7 linked regions of the Homo sapiens genome follow. The protein of the gene in region 5 purifies or fractionates together with the protein of the main gene of each other region. This does not show direct contact. Each region holds a gene or a part of one and is shown on either strand. Other genes may lie near its edges. The genes, in order: DNAJC7, PSMA6, METTL3, STIP1, AMBRA1, ARAF and CLPB.

What was found.
Region 1: the proteins of AMBRA1 (region 5) and DNAJC7 purify together in Homo sapiens (affinity purification with mass spectrometry, with the first as the bait; 2 studies listed by BioGRID). This does not show direct contact.
Region 2: the proteins of AMBRA1 (region 5) and PSMA6 purify together in Homo sapiens (affinity purification with mass spectrometry, with the first as the bait; 2 studies listed by BioGRID). This does not show direct contact.
Region 3: the proteins of AMBRA1 (region 5) and METTL3 purify together in Homo sapiens (affinity purification with mass spectrometry; 2 studies listed by BioGRID and IntAct, with this or other methods). This does not show direct contact.
Region 4: the proteins of AMBRA1 (region 5) and STIP1 purify together in Homo sapiens (affinity purification with mass spectrometry, with the first as the bait; 2 studies listed by BioGRID). This does not show direct contact.
Region 6: the proteins of AMBRA1 (region 5) and ARAF purify together in Homo sapiens (affinity purification with mass spectrometry; 2 studies listed by BioGRID). This does not show direct contact.
Region 7: the proteins of AMBRA1 (region 5) and CLPB purify together in Homo sapiens (affinity purification with mass spectrometry, with the first as the bait; 2 studies listed by BioGRID). This does not show direct contact.

Annotation. Positions count from the first base shown.
Region 1 is NC_000017.11:42,007,440-42,010,939, reverse strand, and holds part of DNAJC7 (dnaJ homolog subfamily C member 7), read left to right. Parts: intron 1-3,500. UniProt on the Homo sapiens protein: Acts as a co-chaperone regulating the molecular chaperones HSP70 and HSP90 in folding of steroid receptors, such as the glucocorticoid receptor and the progesterone receptor.
Region 2 is NC_000014.9:35,302,382-35,305,881, reverse strand, and holds part of PSMA6 (proteasome subunit alpha type-6), read right to left. Parts: intron 1-3,500. UniProt on the Homo sapiens protein: Component of the 20S core proteasome complex involved in the proteolytic degradation of most intracellular proteins. This complex plays numerous essential roles within the cell by associating with different regulatory particles.
Region 3 is NC_000014.9:21,504,841-21,508,340, forward strand, and holds part of METTL3 (N(6)-adenosine-methyltransferase catalytic subunit METTL3), read right to left. Parts: intron 1-3,500. UniProt on the Homo sapiens protein: The METTL3-METTL14 heterodimer forms a N6-methyltransferase complex that methylates adenosine residues at the N(6) position of some RNAs and regulates various processes such as the circadian clock, differentiation of embryonic and hematopoietic stem cells, cortical neurogenesis, response to DNA damage, differentiation of T-cells and primary miRNA processing.
Region 4 is NC_000011.10:64,196,171-64,199,670, forward strand, and holds part of STIP1 (stress-induced-phosphoprotein 1), read left to right. Parts: intron 1-1,100; coding exon 1,101-1,227; intron 1,228-1,322; coding exon 1,323-1,425; intron 1,426-1,683; coding exon 1,684-1,804; intron 1,805-3,500. UniProt on the Homo sapiens protein: Acts as a co-chaperone for HSP90AA1. Mediates the association of the molecular chaperones HSPA8/HSC70 and HSP90.
Region 5 is NC_000011.10:46,542,024-46,545,523, forward strand, and holds part of AMBRA1 (activating molecule in BECN1-regulated autophagy protein 1), read right to left. Parts: intron 2,019-3,500; coding exon 1,952-2,018; intron 1,376-1,951; coding exon 1-1,375. UniProt on the Homo sapiens protein: Substrate-recognition component of a DCX (DDB1-CUL4-X-box) E3 ubiquitin-protein ligase complex involved in cell cycle control and autophagy.
Region 6 is NC_000023.11:47,567,705-47,571,204, reverse strand, and holds part of ARAF (serine/threonine-protein kinase A-Raf), read right to left. Parts: intron 2,488-3,500; coding exon 2,311-2,487; intron 2,219-2,310; coding exon 2,172-2,218; intron 1,667-2,171; coding exon 1,548-1,666; intron 1,313-1,547; coding exon 1,181-1,312; intron 328-1,180; coding exon 193-327; intron 1-192. UniProt on the Homo sapiens protein: Involved in the transduction of mitogenic signals from the cell membrane to the nucleus. May also regulate the TOR signaling cascade. Phosphorylates PFKFB2.
Region 7 is NC_000011.10:72,298,532-72,302,031, forward strand, and holds part of CLPB (mitochondrial disaggregase), read right to left. Parts: exon of another isoform or gene 3,434-3,500; coding exon 3,272-3,433; exon of another isoform or gene 2,202-3,271; intron 1,931-2,201; exon of another isoform or gene 1,835-1,930; intron 1,650-1,834; exon of another isoform or gene 1,432-1,649; intron 1-1,431. UniProt on the Homo sapiens protein: Functions as a regulatory ATPase and participates in secretion/protein trafficking process. Has ATP-dependent protein disaggregase activity and is required to maintain the solubility of key mitochondrial proteins.

The sequences.
Region 1 (3,500 bases), on a different chromosome or scaffold from region 5:
TGGCAATTCCTATGTTTTACCCTCACCATGGGTAAGAATATGAGTGGTTGAGGCTTTTGAGAATGGTAATAGGAGGAATATATGACTCTCAGGTCTTATTCTGAGACGTGAAATTCTATTGGCATGTGACTTACAATTTGTGTGGGGAGGCCAGATTGTCAGATAAGCAGTGTTAACCATCTCTCTTGATTCTAATATTACTTTTGGAGAGAGTGTGAGGGGCAAGCAGGACCCTCTCTTGTTTTTGGAGTTTCTGTCCTGAGAGTTCTTCCTTGGACAGTTTGCCCTGAGACAGTTAACCACCTGTTGAACTAAGGAACCAAGACAACTTTGAGAAGTGAAATACCGTTGACAATCCAGGCTCCTCCCCACTCTAGTTCCCATCTCCACCCCACCCCACTCCACCCAAAAAAACTCAGGAAGCAGCCTTTATATATATATATTTTTGAGACAGAGTTTCATTCTTGTTGCCCAGGCTGGAGTGCAATGGCGCAATCTTGGCTCACTGCAGCCTCCGCCTCCCGGGTTCAAGCAATTCTCCTGAGTCAGCTTCCTGAGTAGCTGGAATTACAGGCATGCGCCACCACGCCCGGCTAATTTTGTATTTTTTTTTTTTTTTGTAGAGACAGGGTTTCTCCATGTTGGTCAGTCTGGTCTCGAACTCCCGACCTCAGGTGATCCACCCGCCTTGGCCTCCCAAAGTGCTGGGATTATAGGCGTGAGCCACTGCACCCGGCCTAGGAAGTAGCCTCTTTCTTTCTCTCTTTCTGTCTGTCTCTTTCTTTCTTTCTTTCTTTGTGATGGAGTCTTGCTGTGTCTCCAGGCTGGAGTGTGCAATGGCACGATCTCGGCTCACTGCAATCTCCGCTTCCTGGGTTCAAGCTATCCTCCTGCCTCAGCCTCCTGAGTAGCTGGGACTACAGTTGCATGCCACCATGCCCAGCTAATTTTTTATATTTTTAGTAGAGACGGGTTTCACCATGTTGGCCAGGATGGTCTTGATCTCATCACCTCAGGATCTGCCCGCCTCGGCCTCCCAAGTGCTGGGATTACAGGCGTGAGCCACTGCGCCAGGGCAAAGCAGCCTTTTCCTTAATTGTAGTTCCTCAGTTTTAAATTTTTGATGGGTGCTGGTGTCCCTATAGTGGGAGATGTCACAGAATAGGGAACCGAGGGATGGAAAATGGTGGGTTTGGGGATATGTTATGAAAACAAGCCTCTGGCTAATGCTGAAAAGCCAGTGACTTGTATCCTCAGAATGGTTTCAGAGAAGCATGTTTCCCAGAAGTAGCTTCATTGTTGGGTCTCCTCTCCCCAGGGATAAGTGAAGGTTAGGTAGATGTAATAGATTGTGACACCTCTCATTTAAGGACCTAAAATAAATTTCCAACTCACCGTTGAGACAAGTATTTCCAAGTGAATATGTTTCTGCCTGCAGTGATGGGATTTCTGTAGGGATTGAATTGGTTGCTTGCTTTTTCTTCCTTACTGAATAAGGCATAGCCAGCTGCATAGCCAGGCACAGCTTGCTGGCTGGTGTCCGTCCCTGCCTGAACAGTAGGGAGTGCTGCTGCTTTGTGTAGACAGTCTGTGACTCCTCTGGTGCATTTTGGGTCCCTTCTGACTCTGCCCGTGTTGAGGCTTCTCCTTGAATGTCCACCCAGAGGACAATTTGAACTGGTATGTTAAGGAATTTTCTTCATCTTCTGCCTTCTCTTTATTAGCGGAGATGTGTGGAGGGTTGTTCCATTTGTGCTTTAAAGTGAAAACTATCTATTCTGTAGGAAATTGGGTAAAGAAAGCTGAGTAGCAGATAGCTTTGCTAAAAGGTAGCAGTTGGATAGCGCTCACCTTCTATTTTTTTCTGGATGAAGCACCGAGCATAAATACCTTGCCATATTTATAGAATTATTCCAAGTCATATATCTATGGCCCGGCGTGATGGCTCACGCCTTTAATCCCAACACTTTGGAAGGCAGAGATTGGCGGATCACTTGAGGTCAGAAGTTTGAAGACCAGCCTGGCCAACATGGCAAGACCTCATCTCTACTAAAATAAACAAAGATTAGCCAGGCATGGTAGTGGGGCCCTGTAATCTCAGCTACTCAGGAGGCTGAGGCAGGAGAATCACTTGAACCTGGGAGGCAGAGGTTGCTGTGAACTGAGATCACACCACTGCACTCCAGCCTGGGCAACAAGAGTGAGAGTCTGTCTCAAAAAATATATGTCTGACCCGGCGCGGTGGCTCACGCCTGTAATCCCAGCACTTTGGGAGGCCGAGGCGGGCGGATCATGAGGTCAGGAGATTGAGACCATCCTGGCTAACACGGTGAAACCCCGTCTCTACTAAAAATACAAAAAAATTAGCTGGGCGTGGTGGCAGGCGCCTGTAGTCACAGCTACTTGGGAGGCTGAGGCAGGAGAATGGCGTGAACCTAGGAGGCGGAGCTTGCAATGAGCCGAGATGGCGCCACTGCACTCCAACCTGGGTGACAGAGCGAGACTCCGTCTCAAAAAAAAAAATCTATATCTATATATATATATCTATACCTGTGACTTCCACTTATCTATGTGAAACTTATATTGACATTTCACTTGTAGAATAGTAGATTTTTTTTTTTTTCTTTTTTGAGACGGAGTCTCACTCTTGCCCAGGCTGGAGTGCAATGGCACAGTCTCGGCTCACTGCAACCTCCGCCTCCTGGGTTCAAATAATTCTCCCGCCTCAGCCTCCCGAATAGGTGGGATTACAGGCACCCTCCATCATGCCCGGCTAATTTTTGTATTTTTGTAGAGATGGGGTTTCACCATGTTGCCTAGGCTGGTCTTGAACTTCTGACCTCAGGTGATCCACCCTCCTTGGCCTCCCAAAGTGCTGGGATTATAGACATGAGCCACCTTGCCCAGCCTAGATTTTTTTTTAAAAAAGAAACTTCTTACCGGGCACATGCCTGTAATCCCAGCTACTTGGGAGGCTGAGACAGGAGAATCAGTTGAACCTGGGAGGCGGAGGTTGCGGTGAGCTGAGATCACGCCATTGCACTCCAGCCTGGGCAACAAGAGCGAAATTCTGTCTCAAAAAAAAAAAAAAAAAAAAAAAAGGCAGTTTTTTCTGGCCAATTGTGGTGGCTCATCATGTGTGTAATCTTAGCACTTTGGGAGGCTGAGGAGGTGGATTGCCTGAGCTCAAGAGTTTGAGACCAGCCTGGGCAACATAGTGAAACCCCATCTCTACTAAAATACAAAAATTTAGCTGGGCATGGTGGTGCGTGCCTGTAGTCCCAGCTACCAGGGAGGCTGAGGCACAAGAATCGCTTGAACCTGGGAGGTGAAGATTGCAGTGAGCCGAGATCTCACCACTGCACTCTGGCCTGGGCAATAGAATGAGACTGTCTCCAAAAAAAAAGAAATTTTTTTCTTAAAGAAGAATCTAAATGATATGCTTTTGGTAAGATGGAATAGAAGTTAGGCTCCTGGGCTCCTTTTACTTTATTTTGTCA
Region 2 (3,500 bases), on a different chromosome or scaffold from region 5:
CAAACTCTGGCTCAAGTGATCCTCCCACCTTAGGATTACAGGCATGAGCCACTGTTCCTGGCCTGGGCACATATTTTGTAATCAGGGGAAAAGCAACAAAAATCAATACATGCTCATGGTAGAAAATATGAAAACACAGAAGATAACTTTTAAATAATTATTCATAATCCCAATCATTATTTACATTTTGACATATAACAGATTATTTCAAAATTCTGTCTTCGAGTGTCACTCTGGGCACTGAGTCTGAGCCAAGGCCTCATCTGTTCAAAAAGCCACAGGTGATGACGACCAGCTAAGAAAGCTACTGCCTATCAGGCTAAAGAATCTCTTTTAATAGAAACTGTAATAAATCATCAAATATTTCTAAATGGCTAACTATTTAAGAGAGAACAAAAGAACAGAGCAAAAATGATTCTAGAAAAATCACCTTAAAGGAAATCCTCAGCTGGGTGCAGTGGCTCACATCTGTAATCCTAGCAATTTGGGAAGCCAAGGTGGGAGGACTGCTTGAGCCCCGGAGTCCCAGGCCAGCCTGGGCAACATGGCAAGACCCTGTCTCTACAAAAAAATGTTAGCTAGGCATGGTGGTACACCTGTGGTCCCAGTTCCTTGGGAGGCTGAGGCAAGAGGATCACTTGAGCCCAGGAGGTCGAGGCTGCAGTGAGCCGTGCTCACACCACCGTACTCCAGCCTGGGCAACAGAGCAAGACCCCATTTCAAAAAAAAAAAAAAGAAACAAAAGAAAAGAAATCTTCAAATATGGCTTGGATTTAACTGGTTTTATCATTATTATCATTATTGAGCAAGAGACAGCATCTTGCTCTGTCACCCAGGCTGAGTGCAGTGGCACAATCATAGCTCACCACAGCCTCAAACTTCTGATTCAGACCCTCCCACTTCAGTCTCCTGAGCAGCTGAGACTACAGGTGGGTATCACCATGCCTAATTTAAAACAATTTTTTAGAGATGGGGTCTCACTACATTGCTCAGGCTGGTCTCAAACTCTTGGCCTCAAATGATCCTCTTGCCTCGGCTTCTGGAGTAGCTGGGATTACAGCAGGTATGAGCCATAACCCCCAATTTAATTGGTTAATTATAATAGCAAAATTTTACCATCCCATTACACTACAAATAACTTTTTTTTTTTTTTTTGAGATGGAGTTTCACTCTGTCGCCCAGGTTGGAGTGCAGTGGTGCAATCTTGGCTTACTGCAACCCCTGCCTCCTGGGTTGGAGCAATTCTGCCTGAGCCTCCCGAGTAGCTGGGATTACAGGTGTGCACAACCACGCCCAGCTAATTTTTGTATTTTTAGTAGAGACGAGGTTTCGCCATGTTGGCCAGGCTGGTCTTGAACTCCTGACCTCAGGTAGTACACCCACCTCGGCCTCCCAGATGCTGGGATTACAGGTGTGAGCGACCGCGCTCAGCCTACACTACAAATAACTTCTAAAATGTAGCTGGTGCCTCGCTATTTGTGGGGATTGGTTCTAGGACCTCCCATGGATTCCAAAATCCACAGAAACTCAAGTCTCTGATATAAAATGGCACAGTATTTGCACATCGCCTATGTATATCCTCCTGTATACTTGAAATTATCCCTAGCTTGGCCAGGCGTGGTGGCTGACACCTGTAATCCCAGCACTTTGGGAGGCAGAGACAGGCAGATCACCTGAAGTCAGGAGTTCAAGACCATCCTGGCCGACATGGTGAAACCGCATCTCTATTAAAAATACAAAAATTAGCCAGACATGGTGGCAGGTGCCTGTAATCCCAGCTACTCAGGAGGCTGAGGCAGGAAAATCGCTGGAACCTGGGAGGTGGAGGTTGCAGTGAGCTGAGATTGCACCACTACACTCCAGCCTGGGCTACAGAGCGAGACTCCGTCTAAAAAAAAAAGAAAGAAATTATCTCTAGCTTACACTACACGAGCTAATACAATGAGTGAGACTCCGTTTAAAAAAAAAAAAAGAAAGAAATTATCTCTAGCTTACACTACACTAGCTAATACAATGTAAATGCTAAATAGTTGTTATACTACATTGTTTAGCGAATAATGACAAGAAAAAAATCTGTACATGTTCAGTACAGGAGCAATTTTTTCCCTGAATATTTATGATCTGCAGCTGGTTGAATCCATGGATGATGAACCCATGAATATGGGTTGAATATGGAGGACTAGCTGTACAACTTTCAAAGTGCTTCTTGATTCTGATCCTGATATGGCTAATAAAGCTTCTATCAGATCAGCCCTCCACAAATAAAAAGTACTAACTCTAAACAAAACAACAACTACCTAAAGACACCACAAAGTCAGATTCTAGAGGGGAAGTCAACAGTTGGGAGAAAGGAATGGCATGAGTTGAGTTTCCCATTTTTGTGGCTCATAATCTGAGAGCAGTAAAGGCTGAACTCCCACAGAAAACTCAGTCTTTTTGGCCTGAAGAACTAGAGAACAGTTTGGGGTAACAATAGCTGCCAGAAAACAAGGGAGAGAAACCAGAGCACTAGAGAGTGAGAGTCCCAACTTCTATATATAAACACTGCCCAAATCTCTAGCAGATTCCATAACAACACACACAAGGCAGACTCCAAGCGGCCTAGTTAAGGATAAAAGAAACCGAGTGAGATTTAAGATGCCACCCAAGAGACAGACTTTGTAGCTTGAGAATAACCAAATTAACTGCCTATTAGAACAAAACAAGTCAATACTCTTTGGAGAAATATAACAGAATCCACAGTCTTCATAAAATAACATTCATAAATGTCCAGGATACAATCCGGAACTCTCAATATACCAAAAAACAAATCAAGTCAAACTAAAAAACCAAAACCAAAACCAAACAACAAAAACCAGGAATATTGTGTTTAATTCTCAAAAAGAACAATCCTGAGACGACCCAGATGTTGCTGTATTAGCAAAGAATTAAAAACAACCATTATAACTATGCTCAATGACATGATGGAAAATGTTCTCAAAATGAAAAATGATAGGAAATCTCAGCAAAGAAAAAATGAAAGAAGCAAAAGGAAATTGTAGAACTGAAAAATATAATACGTAAAATTTAAAAATTCACCAAATGGACGTAACTGTAGAATGGAGATGAGAAAGGAAAGAGTGAGTGAATATGAAAATGTATCAAATGATCCAATCTTAAAAAGGCAGAAAAAATAGTTGAAAAAAACAACGAATCTGTGGGTCTACATCAAAATGTGTAAGATATGTACAACTGGAGTCCTATATGGAGAGCAAAGAATCGGAAAACAAAATCTGAAGAAATAATGGCTAAAAATGTTAAAAATATGGCAAAAGACAAAAAAATTTCAGATTAAAGAACCTCAGAAAACTCCAAGCAAAATGAAAACAGAAAATCACATATAGATTCATTATGGTCCAATGTCTGAAAACCAAAAATAGAAAAAATTTTGAAAACAGAGAAAAACAAATGAAAAACATAAAGAAACTATGACATAATAAGTGTGTGTTGTTTAAACACCA
Region 3 (3,500 bases), on a different chromosome or scaffold from region 5:
GAAGGAGGAGAATTGCTTGAACCCACGAGGCAGAGGCTGCAGTGAGCCAACATCATGCCACTGCACTCCAGACTGGGCGACAGAGCAAGACTCTGTCTCAAAAAATATATAAATAAATAATTCATTAATTTGAAAATTTTCCACTCTAATGGAAACTGAATTTATTAAAATCTGACTCAGGGCTTGGTGTGGTGCCTTATCTCTGTAATCCCAGCACTGTGAGAGGCCAAGGTGGGAGGATCACTTGAGCCCAGGAGTTCCAGACCAGCCAGGGGAACATGGTGAAACCCAGTGTCTCTAAAGAAAATTTTTTTAAAAATTAGCCACACAAGGTGGCCTGTGCCTGTAGTCCCAGCTGCTGGGGAGGCTGAGGTGGGAGGATTCCACTCTCACCCATTTCTTCTTTCATTTTCAGTTTCTCCAGTTAGTAACTGAAGATGTTCTTTGAGTAATTAAGTGAGTGAGAAAATTTTTAAGTGAGAAATCTATAAAAAGAACCATGTTAACATAAATATTTCAGTCCTTACAAGTTGGTATTGACTTTTCTCATTGGTAATCTGACTGATTTAATACTGCTCATTCCAATATCTGGTGATGTAATTCTGGTTATGAATCCTTGTATTAATAACACCTCCTGGGAGGTTTTTTTTCCCCAACATTACATTCAGAATATTAGAGCTGAAAATACCTTTTTTAAGGTTATCAGGAGGAGGGAGCTTATGTTTAATGTGGTGGATAAAACTTAACTGCTGGTTAATACAATTGTTATTCAGGTGAAATTCCCTAAACTTTTCACGTGCAAAGTTTTGTATGTATACAGACATTTGGGGAAAAGTTTTATCATCCCTAAAACCGGTTACTGTCCAGAAAATGATAAGAATCCCTGGGTTCCAAATCCTTCATAAGGTATTTATTCATTTATTTATTCAACACATTTACTCAATGCCTCCGCTCTGCTGCAACTACACTGACATTCTGCTTCTAATCTAACGAAAATAATGTGTTCGGTTTAGCAAAATAATACATAACACTTGATTCACCCTTTAATTAAGAGAACCACTGAAATTAATATGGTCTGATTACAAATTTGCTGAATCCTTAAACGTGTCAACATCTATATGCACATCTTCAATCTCAAGAAATATACTGGAGCACTTCACATATTTACTATGTGCTAAACCTGGCCAAATATAGTTTGTTTCCATTAAAATAAAGTTTTTTTTTTTGAGACGGAGTCTTGCTCTGTTGCCAAGGCCAAAATAAAGATTTTTTTAAGTAATATTTTTCTTTTTAAAAAAATATACTTTACCAACATGAGATATATAACACCCATTAGGATGGCGCTTCCTCAAAAATCAAAAATAGAATTACCATATGATCTAGCAATTCCACTTTTGGGTATATGCCCAAAAGCATTAAAGCGGGGTCTCGGCCGGGCGTGGTTGGCTCACACCTGTAATCCTAGCACTTTGGGAGGCAGAGGCGGGCAGATCACGAGGTCAGGAGATCGAGACCATCCTGGCTAACACGGTGAAACCCCGTCTCTACTAAAAATACAAAAAAATTAGCCGGACGTGGTGGCAGGCACCTGTAGTCCCAGCTACTCAGGAGGCTAAGGCAGGAGAATGGGGTGAACCCAGGAGGTGGAGCTTGCAGTGAGCCGAGATCGCGCTACTGCACTCCAGCCTGGGTGACAGAGCGAGACTCCGTCTCAAGAAAAAACAAAACAAAAAAGAATTAAAGCAGGGTCTCAAAGAGATATTCATACACCCAGGTTCATAGCAGCATTATTTACAATAGCCAAAAGGTAGAAGTAACCCAAACGCCCACCCATGGATGAATGAACAAAATGTGTTATATACATACAGTGGAATATTATTTATCCTTCAAAAGGAAGGAGGCCAGGCATGGAGGCTTATGCCTGTAATCCCAGCACTTTGGGAGGCTGAGGATGGAGGATCACTTGAGCTCAGGAGTCCAAGACCAACCTAAGCAACATGGCAAAACCCTGTTGGGCGTTTTGCCCAAAAAATACTAAAAATTAGCCAGGCAAGGTTGTATGTGCCTGTAGTACATACAACAAGCACCTGCCACCACACCTGGCTAATTTTTATATTTTTAGTAGAGACAGAGTTTCACCATGTTGGCCAGGCTGGTCTTGAACTCCTGACCTCAGGTGATCCACCCGCCTTAGCCTTCCAAAGGCTGTGGACACCTGTAGTCACAACTACTCGGGAGGCTGAGGCAGGAGAATTGCTTGAACCCAGGAGGCAGAGGTTGCAGTGAGGTGAGATGGCACCACTGCACTCCAGCCTGGGCAACAAGAGCGAAACTCTGTCTCAAAAAATAAATAAATAAATAAATAAATAATAAAAATGCCAATCTAACAAAGGTCTCCCAATATTTTGCCCATATTATTTTCCACTATTAACGATGTGGTGGGTACATTTTAGTTCATTTTATATCCTTGTCTTTTGACACTCAGTTCAGTAGTCGGTAATTATCAGATTTCAGTAATGCTGTAAAAAACAAGGTGTGGCCGGGCGCGGTGGCTCACACCTGTAATCCCAGCAATTTGAGAGGCCGAGATGGGCGGATCACGAGGTCAGGAGATCGAGACCATCCTGGCTAACACTGTGAAACCCCGTCTCTACTAAAAACGATACAAAAAAATCAGCCAGGCATGGTGGTGGGCACCTTTAGTCCCAGCTACTTGGGAGGCTGAGGCAGGAGAATGGCGTGAACCTGGCAGTCGGAGCTTGCAGTGAGCCGAGATCGCGCCACTGCATTCCAGCCTGGGCAACAGATGTGGTAGGCAAATTTTTATTTCCGGTGAGAAACGAATGGAATAATCTGAACTTTTATCAAGTCTTGAGTTATATCTTACATGACAACATGATTCATAAACTTACAATACAGTGTTTCACAAGGGTTTCCTAAGAATCCTAAAGCTCAACAAAATACATTCTTTGAAATAATCAAAATAACACAGAAAGAACAGTGACATTCTGGTTTAATTTGTATGTTTCATCTTTACCTATTACCACAGTACCAAATGATGGGTCAGATCAAGCTCTCGGTCAGAAGACAAGATACATTTAATTACAACCCCAAAAATACTTTTATAAGAGTCTTAACTAGACTGGGATTACATCTGTAATCCCAGCACTTTGGGAGGCCAGGGTGGGAGGATAGCTTGAGCCCAAGAGTCCAAGACCAGCCTGGGCAACATGGCAAGGCCCTGTTTCTACAAAGAAATAAAAATTAAAAAGTAGGCAGGCATGGTAGGGTACACCTGTGGTGCTAGCCACTCAGGAGGAGGCTGAGGCAGGAGGATCACTTGAGCCCTGAGGTCGAGACTGCAGTAAGCTGTGTTCACGCCACTGAATTCCAGCCTGGGTAACAGAACGAGATTCTTATCTTACACACACACACACACAGAAAAGGGTCTTAGCTATATTACTAGCTAAATATACAAATCAAGAGATATTCACATCTAA
Region 4 (3,500 bases), about 18 Mb from region 5:
AGATCACCTGAGGTCAGGAGTTCAAGACCAGTCTGGCCAACATGGTGAAACCTCATCTTCACTAAAAACACAAAAATTAGCCAGGTGTCATGGTGGGCGCCTGTAGTCCCAGCTACTCGGGAGGCTGAGGCAGAAGAATCGCTTGAACTCGGGAGGCAGAGGTTGCAATAAGCTGAGAGCTCATCACTACACTCCAGGCTGGGTGACAGAGCGAGACTCCATCTCAAAAAAAAAAAAAAAAAAAGCTTCACAAGAGCATTCCTAGGAGTAATGTGTAGCAAAGAGTGAGCTGCGGGAGTTGCCCTTCCCGTGGTCACCACAGCGGCTTCATTGCTGCCAGTGTGAATGTTGGTCCTAGCAAGACTGGAAAGTTGAGAGTAATTCACGTCCTTGTCGTGATCCGAAGAATGTTGTCCACATCAATCCCTAGGCCTTTGCTTCCTGGCTGGACATGGTGTGTGGTTGGGAGTGTCCGCTAAGCAGCACTCTTTTAGAGCAGAAGGCATGTGCCTCAACGATTTCATTTCCCTCCTTGTAAACTGGAACAGCAGATTGTTGCCAAATTTAGCACCTTGAAATGGGTAAGCGTTGGTTGTTTAGGGTGTCTCAGCTGGAAAAAGGCCCTCCAGTGTGGGCGGTAGTGAGCTTTGCTGAAGACTCGTGCCACTCAGCCGCTTCTCATCCTCTCACCACCCCCTCTGCTATGGTTCCCTGACAACTAAGACCCTGAGGCAACCACAAGACTGACACCAGATCTGCTGCAGCCTCAGAATAAAGCCTGGTCCAAAACTCTGCTGTCCTCACCGGTTGCTTCAAGTCGAAGGGATTTCCTCTCCCCTAAAGAAGCGCTCTGCTTCCTGACAAAGATCTAGGAGAGTAGGTGGAAAAGGGGGAGTTTCAGAGCAAGCAAAGATGAAGTTAGTTTTCATTCTAACGGCTGATACTTTATTGTCTATAGCTGACTGATGAAGAGGCCTTCAGGAGAACTTGATAGAATTCTATTCATGTTAGTTGCATTTCAGAACTTGTGACAGATCATAGATTCTTGCTTTGTCACCTGAGTTAGATTTGCTCAGCACTCACTTCTAAACCTCATCTAGGCACTGAAAGAAAAAGAGCTGGGGAACGATGCCTACAAGAAGAAAGACTTTGACACAGCCTTGAAGCATTACGACAAAGCCAAGGAGCTGGACCCCACTAACATGACTTACATTACCAATCAAGCAGGTGAGGCCCAGAAACAAGGGGCAAGGGAATTGTTGGGTGTCTCTGAGGGAGGAAGCAAAGACTGACTGTTCCTTCTTAACCATCCTGCCTGGCAGCGGTATACTTTGAAAAGGGCGACTACAATAAGTGCCGGGAGCTTTGTGAGAAGGCCATTGAAGTGGGGAGAGAAAACCGAGAAGACTATCGACAGATTGCCAAGTAGGCTCAACCTTCCAGAATACCTTGAGTAGCGCGGAGGGTTTGCTGTCCAAGACTTAAGTTTCTCTGCATGGGGAGGAGGGCTGCTGGCCATAGAATCTGCTGTGTTAAGAAAGGGCTGGCAAGAAGGTCACCAGAGACAAGACAAAAGGTGTTGAAGGCAGTGATGCGGGCCTTTCTAGCTGCAGGTGTGTTTTTCTGCAGGAGCTGACTTTATCTCTCTGTCCTAAGCAGTCCTTGTCCCTCTTTCTTTATCAGAGCATATGCTCGAATTGGCAACTCCTACTTCAAAGAAGAAAAGTACAAGGATGCCATCCATTTCTATAACAAGTCTCTGGCAGAGCACCGAACCCCAGATGTGCTCAAGAAATGCCAGCAGGTGCGTAGGAAAAGAATAGGGGTATTTTCTTGTTTTCCTAATAATTGAGCCATTGTTTCTTACTGTTTTATTTAATAATGAACTTGACTTTTTTTTTTTTTTGAGATAGGGTCTCACTCTTTCACCCAGGCTGAAAGACAGTGGCACAATCGTGGCTCACTGCAGCCTCAACCTCCTGGGCTTCAGTGATCTTCCCACCTCAGCCTGAGTAGCTAGGATTACAGGCACGTGCCACCACGTCCAGCTAATTTTTTTTTTGAGATGGAGTCTGTTTGTCACCCAGGCTGGAGTGCAGTGGCATGGTGTCTGCTCACTGCAACCTCCGCCTCCCAGGTTCAAGCAATTCTCCTGCCTCAGCCTCCCGAATTGCTAAGACTACAGGTGCACGCCACTATGCCCGGCTAATTTTTGTATTTTTAGTAGAGATGGGGTTTCATTATATGGACCAGGCTGGTCTCAAACTCCTGACCTCATGATCCACCCACCTCAACCTCCCAAAGTCCTGGGATTACAGGCCACTGCGCCTGGCCACGTCCAGCTAATTTTTTTATTTGTAGAGAAGGGGTCTCACTGTGTTGCCCAGGTTGGTCTTGAACTCCTGAACTCAAGTGATCCGCCCTCCTCAGCCTCCCAAAGTGCTGGAATTATAGGCGTAAGCCACTATGCCTGGCTGAACCTGATCTTTTTTTAGGTAGTGGCTTTGGTCATCTTACATGATTCTTTCTCTGTCATTTAACAGTGACAACATGTAGGAAGTGATCTGGTGTTTTTTTTTGTGGTTTTTTTTTTTTTTTTTTTGCAGTTTTTGGTATTGGCCAAGATTTCAACCCTAAATGTGTTAATATTGAGGGCCTGTGCATTGAGAATGTTAATAGTTCTTGTAACATAACATTTTGACTATTTTATAAAGACTGTAAATTTCTTTTAAAATCTTGCCAGCAATAGCCGGGTGCAGTGGCTCACGCCTGTAATCCCAGCACTTTGGGAGGCTGAGGTGGGTGGATCACAAGGTCAGGAGTTCAAGACCAGCCTGGCCAGGATGGTGAAACCCCGTCTCTACTAAAAATACGAAAAAATTAGCTGGGCGCAGTGGCAGGCGCCTGTAATCCCAATTACTCAGGAGGATGAGGCAGGAGAATCGCTTGAACTCAGTGGGGCGGAGGTTGCAGTGAGCCGAGATCATGCCACTGCACTCCAGCCTGGGTGAGAGTGAGACTCCATCTCAAAAAAAAAAATCTTGCCAGCAATAGCCAGTCGCAGTGGCTCACGCCTGCGATCCCAGCACTTTGGGAGGCCGAGGTGGGCGGATCAAGAGGTCAGGAGATCGAGACCATCCTGGCTAACACGGTGAAACTCTGTCTCTACTAAATAAATAAAAAAAATTAGCCTGGTATGGTGGTGGGCGCCTGCAGTCCCAGCTACTCGGGAGGCTGAGGCAGGAGAATGGCGTTGAACCCGGGAGGCAGAGCTTGCAGTGAGCCGAGATCGCGCCACTGCACTCCAGCCTGGGCGACAGAGCGAGACTCTATCTCAAAAAAAAAAAAGAAAAAAATCTTGCCAGCAATACTCTGAAAATTAAAATCCTAATCTGATTTTTTTTTTTTTTGAGATGGAGTCTCGCTCTGTCACCCAGGCTGGAGTGCAGTGGCGCGATCTCGGCTCACTGCAAGCTTCCGCCTCCCGGGTTCACGCCATT
Region 5 (3,500 bases):
TGGACTGGGTGTAAATTCTTTCCCAGTGGCCTGTCTCCTGGTTAAAGGCCACCCCCACAGTCCTCTCCTCCTGCGGACTAGCAGAGCTGCTCAACTCCAGCCTGCTGGAGCTGGGCGTTTGGCCCTCAGTCCGCTCGAGAGGTGGCAACTGGCTGCCACTTGATGGCACACTCTCAAAGGAGCTGGGGACCTGCCAAGAGGAACTAGCCTCGCCAGAGGAGTAGTTAGGTGTGGTTCTTTCCCAGCGCAGGGTATCGTTGTTGAAGGTCAGGAGATTGTGGCAAGCACGACAGCGATTCAGGTGGCCACGGGACAGGTTGGAGTTGTTCTCACTGCTGTGTGGGGTGGGCTGGTGGGAAGGGCCTGGCCTCTCAGATTCAATGTTATTGTTGAGCATTTCCTGGGCCTGTTGGGTCTGGGGAGCTTCCCCACTCAGGCTCTGATCCAGCTCCTGAAGCCGGTCATACTCCAGAAAGAAGCGTCTCAGGTCACACTGAAGCTCATGGCGAATGCTGCCCGAGTTGTTTTGGCTGGAGCCATTCCCTCCATCTGACTCAGTTGCCAACCCTGATGCCGGAAAACCCCTCCCTTCTGTGGCTGAAGTGTACACAGATGCCTGAGAGCCACCTTCCTGCTGTCTCAGCACAGACAGCAAACTCACCGAAGAGGCACTGGTTCTGGGCGGGGGCATGGATTCCGCCTCAGAGCGGGAGTTCAGACTGAGTACTGTCCGGGTCCACTCAGATCCTGTCAACCCAGGAGCTATTTCTCGGTGATACCTAGAAGGGTGGCTAGACAGAGGCCCTCCCAAAGAGCGGCGGGTAGGACCCAGACTGAGGTTGCGGAGCGTGTTGCCGGCAGTGCTGCTCTGGACTGTACTGAAGGCAGACGGCCGGTTCAGGAGGCCCTGGTCCTGCTGCGTTGACGAGGCCTGCTCCGGGGGATGGAAGGGCTCGGTCTGTACAAAAGAAAAGGAAGGGGTAGTAGCTCTGGCAGAAGCAGGGGGGACACTGTCCTGGTGTGGCAAGAGGGAAGGAACTCGAGTGCCAGAGCAGCGGCTGCAAAGGCACAGGATCCCAAGGTGCTGGCAGCACTCAGCTGTGGGGTAACTGACCCGCTGTCGGAGCCTGATGTAAGCGGAAGTCCTGGGGCGCTCCGTGGAGGGCTGAGGGGGAGGCGGTGGGGGTGAGGGGGTAGCAGAATCTTGCACTGTGCTTTGCTCTCCCACCTGGATGCCAGAAGAGCGGGAGGACAGCATGTGCAGGAAATTGTGGAGGAGAGGCGTCCGGCGAACTGGCTGTGATTGCAGGAGGGCACGCTGACGGTAGTGGGATAATTCTGTTCCATCTATGGGGATCTCTGGTTCGTCATCACCCTGCAACGTGGACCAGCATGGGGCAGGGGGTAGAGCAAGGCAGTTAGGTAGAACCTCCAAGTAAATCAAGAAAAACTAACCACTGACAATCATCCAAGGAAAACAATGTTCATAGGTAGGAAACAACTCTCTACCCCTGAAGCACTGACAACTGGCCTCAGATTCAAAATAATCACATGGTATTAAATTTTCCACTCCCAATTAGCAGCATATCTGAATGAGTGCAGCTGACAAACCAATTGTCTTACAAAAGACATCTCCCCATGACATGGAAGCAGTGAGGGGAAGCAAAATGTCAACCAGCCAGAGGCACATGAGTGACAAGCTATCCAACACTGTCTAGTGATGATAAGGGTTACTTCTAATGAGGCAATCACTGGAGGGTTTCAGAATCGACTCTCCTGTCAAGATTATGGCTATAACCCTGAATATACAGTCTGAAGCTAGCTTTAAATCTTGACTGGAAAGATAAGACTTGGGTATTGAGAATTAAAATCCAATATAATCAGAATTGGAATACTAGTTAAGAAAAGAACTCACAGTTTAGCTGGAATTGGAACTGCTGGACTAACTTACCTGTTGATTAGAGGGGTTAACAATTGCTGTGAGTAAGTAGTGTCCAAGTGGATCAAATCTCACCAGACTAAAATCACAGAAGAAAGAGACAAAGACACACATAGAGAGATTATGTTAACTGAGAAGAGGAAACTTGTGTTTGAATTTATAGCAATCATTACTGATAACTGGTATCACTCAGGTATCCACTTCATTCAAGACTTCCAAAACTTTCAAAGAGATTAAAATAGTAACACTCAATACTTCTTGCCAGAGTAAAGGAATATGTATCACAAAAATAACGATTTCACATGAAAAACACCTAGAGTTGCCATCCCAGGAAACAGCTACCTTAAGCACACCTTTGCTCAAATACAAGAGTTCATCCTAACCGTAAAGCATAAAATGCTCTCATACTCTGCCACAGAATCAGTTCTTCCCTCATATGGCAGCTACACCGGCAAGAAGCATGAATCTTGGTGGCAATGAACAGTCCCAGCATTAAGTGACATAGCTGAAACCAGAAAATTGGCCTGTATTCGACTGGAAATCCAAGAGGACCAAAGAAACACAATGCATCAACTTTAATACAGACAATATGTTTTGATCTTGAGGACTAAATAAATGTCAATTATGTGCTTACATCTCCATCTTCCAGTTTGATAAACACAGACAACCCACCAAGGTATCTAAAATACCACCCAAACTTCTTTCAGGTTTTCCCAAAGAAGTACTATCCAAAACAGTTAGCTTTGAAACTAAAAGAGAGTCTAATGACCCTGATCTCCAAAAACCAGAAGATGAGGCCAATAAGGGAAAGCTGAAATGAACAAAATGAATGTCTCCCAGCTGATTAGTCAGCTGCTTAGAAAGCAGGAGGCGGCCAGGTGCAGTGGCTCATACCTATAATCCCAATACTTTGGGAGGCTAAAGCAGGAGGATCACTGAAGGCCAGTAGTTCGAGACTAGCCTGGGTAACACAGTGAGGCCCCGCCCCCCAAATCTCTACGAAAAAATTTAAAAATTAGCTGAGAGAGGCTGCACACACCTGTAGTCCCAGATACTCATAAGACTGAGGTGGGAGGATTGCTTGGGCCCATGAGGTCAAGGCTGCAGTAACTTGGGCCCATGAGGTCATGACTGCACAACTGTACTCCAGCCTGGGTAACAGAGCAAGACCCTGTCTCCTTAAAAAAAAAAAAAAAGCCGGGGGGGGGGGGGTGGTGGTGGGCATGGTGGCTCATGCCTGTAATCACAGCACTTTGGGAGGCTGAGGTGGGCGGATCACTTAAGGCCAGGAGTTCAAGACCATCCTGGACAACATGGTGAAACCCTATCTTTATTAAAAATACAAAAAAATGAGCCGGGCATGGTGGTGGGTGCCTGCAATCCCAGCTACTCTGGAGGCTGAGGCACGAGAATCGCTTGAACCTAGGAGGCAGAGGTCGCAGTGAGACAAGACTGCGCCACTGCACTCCACCCTGGGTGACAGAGTGACACCCTGTCTCAAAAAAAAAATAGGAGGAGCTATGAGGATGACAACTTGCCCTGAGCAGGGATAACAACCTGA
Region 6 (3,500 bases), on a different chromosome or scaffold from region 5:
CCCAGCCTCATGGCGAAACACACATACACACACACCCCCAACAGTCCCAGCCTCATGGTGAAACACACACACACACACACACACACACACACACTATACCTCTGAGCTTTCATATTCACATCTGCCTCCATCTCAGTCTTCCTCTATCCCAGAGTCACCCACCCAAGGTGTCCAGCCCCCTACCCAGCCCACCTGGGGGAAGAGGGGCCGCTCCTCCCGCTGGAACTTGAGGCAGTCAGACAGCAGGCGCCGCATGGCCTTGGGGCAGTTGCTGGAGATTTTGCTGAGGTCCGGGGACAGATAGCCACGGCCCACCATAAAGATAATCTGGGGGCAGACGGGGGCAGGAAAGGGGTGATCTGGGGTCAGGGGCTGGGAGGCCCAAGGAATTTTGTATTGAGGGACTTGGAAGGTTCATTTTTAGCGAGCTGGGGTACTGTCAGTATCAAGGCCCAGAGGATTCTCTGTCCTTGAGGACTTGGGAGGATTCTCTGCTTTCAGAACAGAGGGATTTAAATTTGGGGTTGTCAAGGATTGTAGGTATCTGGGGCTCAGAGGATTATAGGCCCACGGGTTTCTAGGAGGCTTAGGGACCTGGAAAGTACTGAGTCTCGGGAAAACATGGAGTTCTGGGTCTGGGGGAGCTTGTACTTCTGTGGGGGTCTGGGGCCTAGAGGGTTCTAGGTATCCCGGCCCTGGGGCCTGCTAGATACCCAAGGCCTAGGTGACTGTGGGTGTCCATGACTATTCCAGAAGCACAAAGGGGTTCTGTTTCTGGGGAAAAATGGGATGCTGGGAGAAATGAGATCTGGGCTTTGAGGATCTGGGGGATTTTGAGTACCCAGAGCAGACGACTATAGGCGTCTAGGGATACAGAGGGCTTTGGGGTATTTGGGGGCCTCAGGGGATTCTAGGTATAGAGATTCGGGGCATTTTGGACTTCAAAGATTTTTGTCCCAGAGGGCTGTGGATGTGAGAAGAGGGAAGTTGGGGTAGGGGAGACCCAGAGAATTTATTGTAAGTGTCTGGAGCCCAAGGGATTCTGGGAGTCCTTATCCTAGAAAATTTTAGGTTTCTGGGGAAAGTGTGGCATTTATCAGTGCAAAGGAGGGGATGTGGGGTATGGATGCCTGAGGGGATCCCTCAGCCCAGGGAACTGTGGGTAAGGTGTGGGGCTCACCTGGTCACGGCAGCCAATGTGGCTGTAAGGCAGTGAGCCAGTCATAAGCTCGTAGAGCACAACCCCGTAGGCATAGACGTCTGACTGGAAGCTGTAGGGGTTCGGGTCCTGCATACGGATCACCTCAGCTGCCTACAACAGGCCAGACCAGGCAGGGGGACCACGGAGGTCAGCAAATGGCTGGTCCACAGTCCCAGATCCCACTGGCCACACAGGGTACAACTCAGAGCCACCCACACGAGGTGGGACATGAGGAGTCCAGACACCCACATCTGGCACAGGCATCCCCGTCCCCACTTGGCCCCACACACCCCAATCCCGGAGCCCACGTCCCCATGTGCCCCCCATCCAGCCTGGCCCAACTCACCATCCACAGCACAGATCCTGAGGGCTGCTCCAAGGGCTGGGCCCCGCTCCATCGAGTCTTCACTGTGGCCAAGCCAAAGTCACCGATCTTCACCGTGAGCCCCTCATGTAGGAAGATGTCCGCCAGGGTCAAGGACCACTACAGGGACTCCTAATAGCCATGCCTCTCACCCTGCCTGGGAGGTTCCCATTGGTGCCCCTATACCACTCATCCCTCTGATCCTGACCAGGAGCCCCTTAATATCACGCAAACTATCCACAACCTTGACGTGGGCAGGGAACGCCTGCTAATGCCCCCCACACTCAGCCCCGCTGTGACTCCTGAACAGGAAGCCCCTCGGAGGGCATCCGAACCCACTATGCCTCTGATGTTGACCATAATGCCCTCCACAACTGTCAGACATCAGACTCTAACCAGAGTCCCCAAGAATAGTACCTGAACCAGCCACACCTCTGACTTCTAAGAGACTGCCATTAAAGCCCCCTGGCTGGCCACAGCTCTGCCACCTGGCAAGGAGCTCTGGGACACATGCCCCTCCCTTGTAATTCCCAGAACCCCCACAAGAGGCATCCTTCTAAGCCCTTGACACCCCCACTCAACCCCAGCCCAGGGACAGATAGATACTGTTAGACTTGAGATCTCGGTGGATGATGTTCTTGGCATGGAGGTAGCTGTGGGGGTGGAGGCAGGTGGCGGATTGGCTGGGGGTTACCTCATTTCCCCCACCCTTTCCCCCCACCCCTCCCCAGGCTGGGAGGCTCACTCCATGCCCTGGGCAGTCTGCCGGGCCACGTCGATGAGCTGGACCATGTCGAAGCGTGTGTCGGCCACATGCAGGTGATGGTAGAGGCTGGAGCCCTCACACCACTGTGTGATGATGGCAAATCCCGGCCGGGTCATGAAGCCCATAAACAGCAAGATGTTGACATGTCGCGTCTTCCTGCAGGCAGGGAGGGCAGTGTCAGAGGTGGGGAGGAAAAATAGCAACTGTCACTTACCGAGCATCAGGAGTGGCACTGTTCTTTACCTTCCTCGGTCATTTATTTTCACCCTGTCTTTTGGGGCACTCAGGACCAAAGCATTGCCAGATTCCATGAATTTGTGAGATGTGTTTACTGGGCTATGATTCTGTGCTGTGGGCTCATATGTGGAGCTTCCCCATCCGAGTCTCCCAACAAAAGCAGGAGGGAGGAATTGCTGCCCCTCCCCCTCCCTGCCTACAGCAGCATTTCTAATCATTAACATCCCCCACCCCTCTGACTCTGACCATTACCTGGGTCTGTGACCATCTCACAGATGAGAAAGCAGAATGCCAACCTTCCTCACTGATGTATCAATATAATATGGATAGATGCAGGATTAAAACATTGGTGATATATGATGATTAGAGCCTGTTCAGCAGCATGAGAAGCTTAGAGGTAAAGAGCTTGGAGTCTGGACTCATGTTCAAATCTAGGCCTCACCAGGTACTCAAGGTACAACCTTGGGAAAGACATTTAACCTCTCTGGGCCTCATGTTCCTCAACTGTAAAACTGATCATTGCATTAGCTACCTTATTCTCTGTAACATAATTGTGCCCATCTGACACAGAGGAAAAGCCAATGCCAACATCCCCAGGGTTGGTAGACGCTATCCAGTACTACCTGTAGTATATAGGTATACAGTACTATGCTACATAGTAACTATAGCAGCAAAAAGGAGACACCTGGCTTTCTTAGCGTGACTAGATGAATACTGTATTGATTACATATTACAGCAATTATAATAATTAAGCAATGATTAGATTATGGTGATGATGATAATATTGTTTAAATCAAGGTATTAGAATTAATGAATAACAAGAACCAACACTATAAACAGAACATTACCATTGTAGCCCAAGCAGAGGGGAAGGAAAGATGGAAGCCTTCCTGGCAATGCAGTAACAAGAATGGTGGCCCACACACAGACCC
Region 7 (3,500 bases), about 26 Mb from region 5:
CTGTTGCCCAGGTTGGAGCGCAGTGGTGCAATCTCTGCTCACTGCAACCTCAGCCTCTGAGGCTCAAGCCATCCTCCCACCTCAGCCTCCTGAGTAGTGAGGACTACAGGCACATGTCACTATGCCCAGCTGATTTTTGTATTTTTTGTAGAGACAAGGTTTTGCCATGTTGCCCAAGCTGGTCTCGAACCCCTGAATTCAAGTGATCTGCCCACCTCGGCCTTCCAAAGTGCTGGGATTACAGGTGTGACCCATCATGCCTGGCCTGGTTTTGCCTCCTACTTCTCTGGCGAGTCTGTCTTGACTTCCCTGATAGGTCCCAAGGCTCTGTGTATAGCCCTCTTTTCTCTGCACATTATACACTCCCTGGGTTACAGACCTCATCCATTCCTGTGGCTTCCGTTAACCTCTCTGGGCTGAAGGATTCCTGAACTGCTATTTTCAGTCAGACCTTTCCTAAACTCCTGACCCATAAAACTGATGAACGGCCCCTTGGCCATCTCCATCTGGATGTCCCTCAGGTATCTCACCTTCAACATTTCCACACCTCAGTGCCTCACCTTCCTCTTCAATCTGCGGCTTCCCACTGTGTTCGCCGCCTTAGCTGATGGCCAACTGGCAGCAGCCAACTGGCCACCCTTGGCTCCTCCTCCTCTCCTCAGTCAACCTTCTAGTAGTTTCTCCAGCCCATGGCCTCCCCAGCTGTAGCTTGGGCTCCCCAGCAGTCTCCTTGTTAATGACCCTCTCCCTTCTCATCCATTCTTTACACAGCTGCCCACGGCATCTTTGTAAAGTGAAAATTTGACTGTTTCTTTCTTGCTTAAAGTCTTTAAAAGGCTCCTTACTCTCTACCAGAGAAATGCAAACTTCTGTGCCTGGCATTTTAACTGGGCCCTGTTTACCTTACCTACCTTGTCTCTAGCACTCTGTCCTTGTTTTCCCTCTGCAATCGAGCAGTACTGACCAGCTGCAGTTCCCTGAGCATGCCAGCCTGTTTCATGCCCTGTACTTTTATACATTAGGTTTCTACTGCCAGCCCCGCCACTCTGTTCACCTAGCACTTACTAACCCTTTGAAGGTTTGCTAACTACTGTTGAATTAAAACTACTGTTGAATTAAATTAGTCAATACAACATTTCCCCTGACTTTGTGGGCTCTGGGAATGGTTCAAGTGAACATGACAAGGGCCCATCCTCAAAGAGCCTAAATCGAGTAAACCTGGATGGCAGCTTTGGTCAATGGAACCAAGAGCATCAGAAACTATAGTAGGCTGGGGCTGGGGGAAGGGGCGACAACAGCTGCAGGAAGGAATTCCTATCAACCCCTAAAAGGCAGTCAGTGGAGTGAAGTGACGGAGGAGGGGGAGACAGGGCTTCCATGTATGGCTGATTGTACTTCAGTCAGCAGTTGCCTTCTGTTTTTTGGGCCAAGAATGCCATCAGAGGTGCCTCTCCAGGGAGACCAGAGATCAAACAGGCCGCGATGCTCACCCTCCCTCAGCGGCATGGTCCCGTCCCTTGCGTGCTTCACTGAGACGGACCTCGCTCTTTTGGCCCTAGCTGCGTGGCAGTCATTCAAGCTGCAGGATCTAGAACTGGGCTGCCTGGGTTTGAATCCTTGATTCTCTCTCCCCAGCTGCATGACCACAGGTAAATGACTTAATCTTACTTTGCTTCAGTTTCCACATCTGTTCAATGGAGGCCGTAATAATAGCTAGCTTTGGAGGGTTGTTGAAAGGGTTAAATTGATACACATAAGCCTCTGAAGACAGCGAATGGCACACAAAATGCAAAATGCCAGCTACTACCATGTCTCCTTTCCACCTGTCTACCAGGCAGAGAGCTCCAAGAGGGCACATTCGGGTCTGGTCATAGCTGTGCACTTGAATCCCATCAAGAGGCTGGAATGGAGTAGAGGCCTCAGTGTACACGTGAGTAACTGAGTATGTGACCTCTGAAGGACTGGTCTCTTCTTCCTCAGCAGAGGTTCAGGGGCAGGGAGCAGCTGAAGGGCTAGGAAGATACAACGGAACGGGCAGGGGCAAGGAGGCTGGGCCAGGTGGGGAAGGCAGTGAGCAGCTGGTAGGAGATCTGGATCTGGATCTTCCTGGCTTGGTACCTGATGTGCTGTTCGGTCTGGAGGAGTCCCCTCCCTGTGGCCTCCTATGACATGGGAAGCAAACCACCTTTTTGTTTTCCTAGGGCTGCAGGAGACTAGGTAGAAAGGTGAGCTGGACTCATGGCCAGGTGCTAGCTAATATAGCCCCTGCATGAGAGAAGAGAGGCCTCATCCCCGGTTCAGTCCTTGGCTCCTCACGCTCTCTTGATGGAGCAGGGCCCCTGAAAAGGTGGAAGTCATCTTCTTCCGTGATCGTAAGCAATCCCTCGCCTGGTTCAAGGTAAACAGTGGTATGGGGGGAGAATTGGGGCTCTGGGATCAGACATATCTGCAGCCCAATCTTGGCTCTTTACACAGCAGCTGTGGCCTTAGGCATGTCTTTTATAACCTCTCTGAACCTCAGTTTCTTCATCTGTAAAAAATGAGCTAATTTCTCCCTTGCCTGTTAGGAATTTTTCTACCTACCTTGTGAGGATTAGTGATAATGGCTGTAACGTCTTTAGTACAGGTCTAGTACACAGAAGGTACTGGATAGAAGTAAGCTCTTCTCTCCATTTAGAACTTACCCCTACGAGCAGGGGAACTGGACAGTCTGTGAGAACCCTCAGATTCTCAGAAGAGAAAGGCTCCATGAATCAGAGTATCAGCATCTCACCATTAGCAGCAACAATATTAGCATTTTAAAGAACTGCAGGAGACAATGTTTGGCACACAGGGAGGAACAAGAGCTGTCTGAGGCAGAAGGATTTTTGGGGCTTCTCTGATTCAGCCTCCTCGTTTGTCACATGAGATCTCTGATGCCTAGAGATGGGCAGTGACTTGCCAAGGCCACAAAGCCAGTCAGGAGCAGAGCTGGAACTAAAAATTCATGTCTCGCTCTCATGGCACCTCTGCCATACCATGTCTCTCTAGAAGGTGGGCTGAGCAGCCACACAATTTCAACTCTTAGGCAGGGCTGGTCTTCGCTTGAGTGCCCCACCCAGGCCCTAGTGCAGAGGGGCTAAGTTGCACCTACTGGATGAATGAATGTACACATGCGGGAGCAGGAAGCCGAGGAATGACCAGCTAGCCTCTGGGCCCTTGCTTTCTGCTGTTCACAGTCCCCCTTATCTCCAGGTGTCCCCCCGCTCCATCCTGGCCCAAGGTGACTCACCTCATCAAACAGCTGCAGCATGATGGTGAGCACATCTGGATGGGCCTTGTCTACTTCATCAAAGAGCACCACAGCATTGGGGCACTGCTTCAACTTCTTGGTCAGCTGGCCACCCTCCTCATGGCCAACGTAGCCTGGTGGAGACCCAATAAACTTGGCCACCTGGTAGAAGGAAGGAAACATGCTAGGAAGGCCTTTCTGTGCTTTTAGTTTCCAACATGGGGCATGC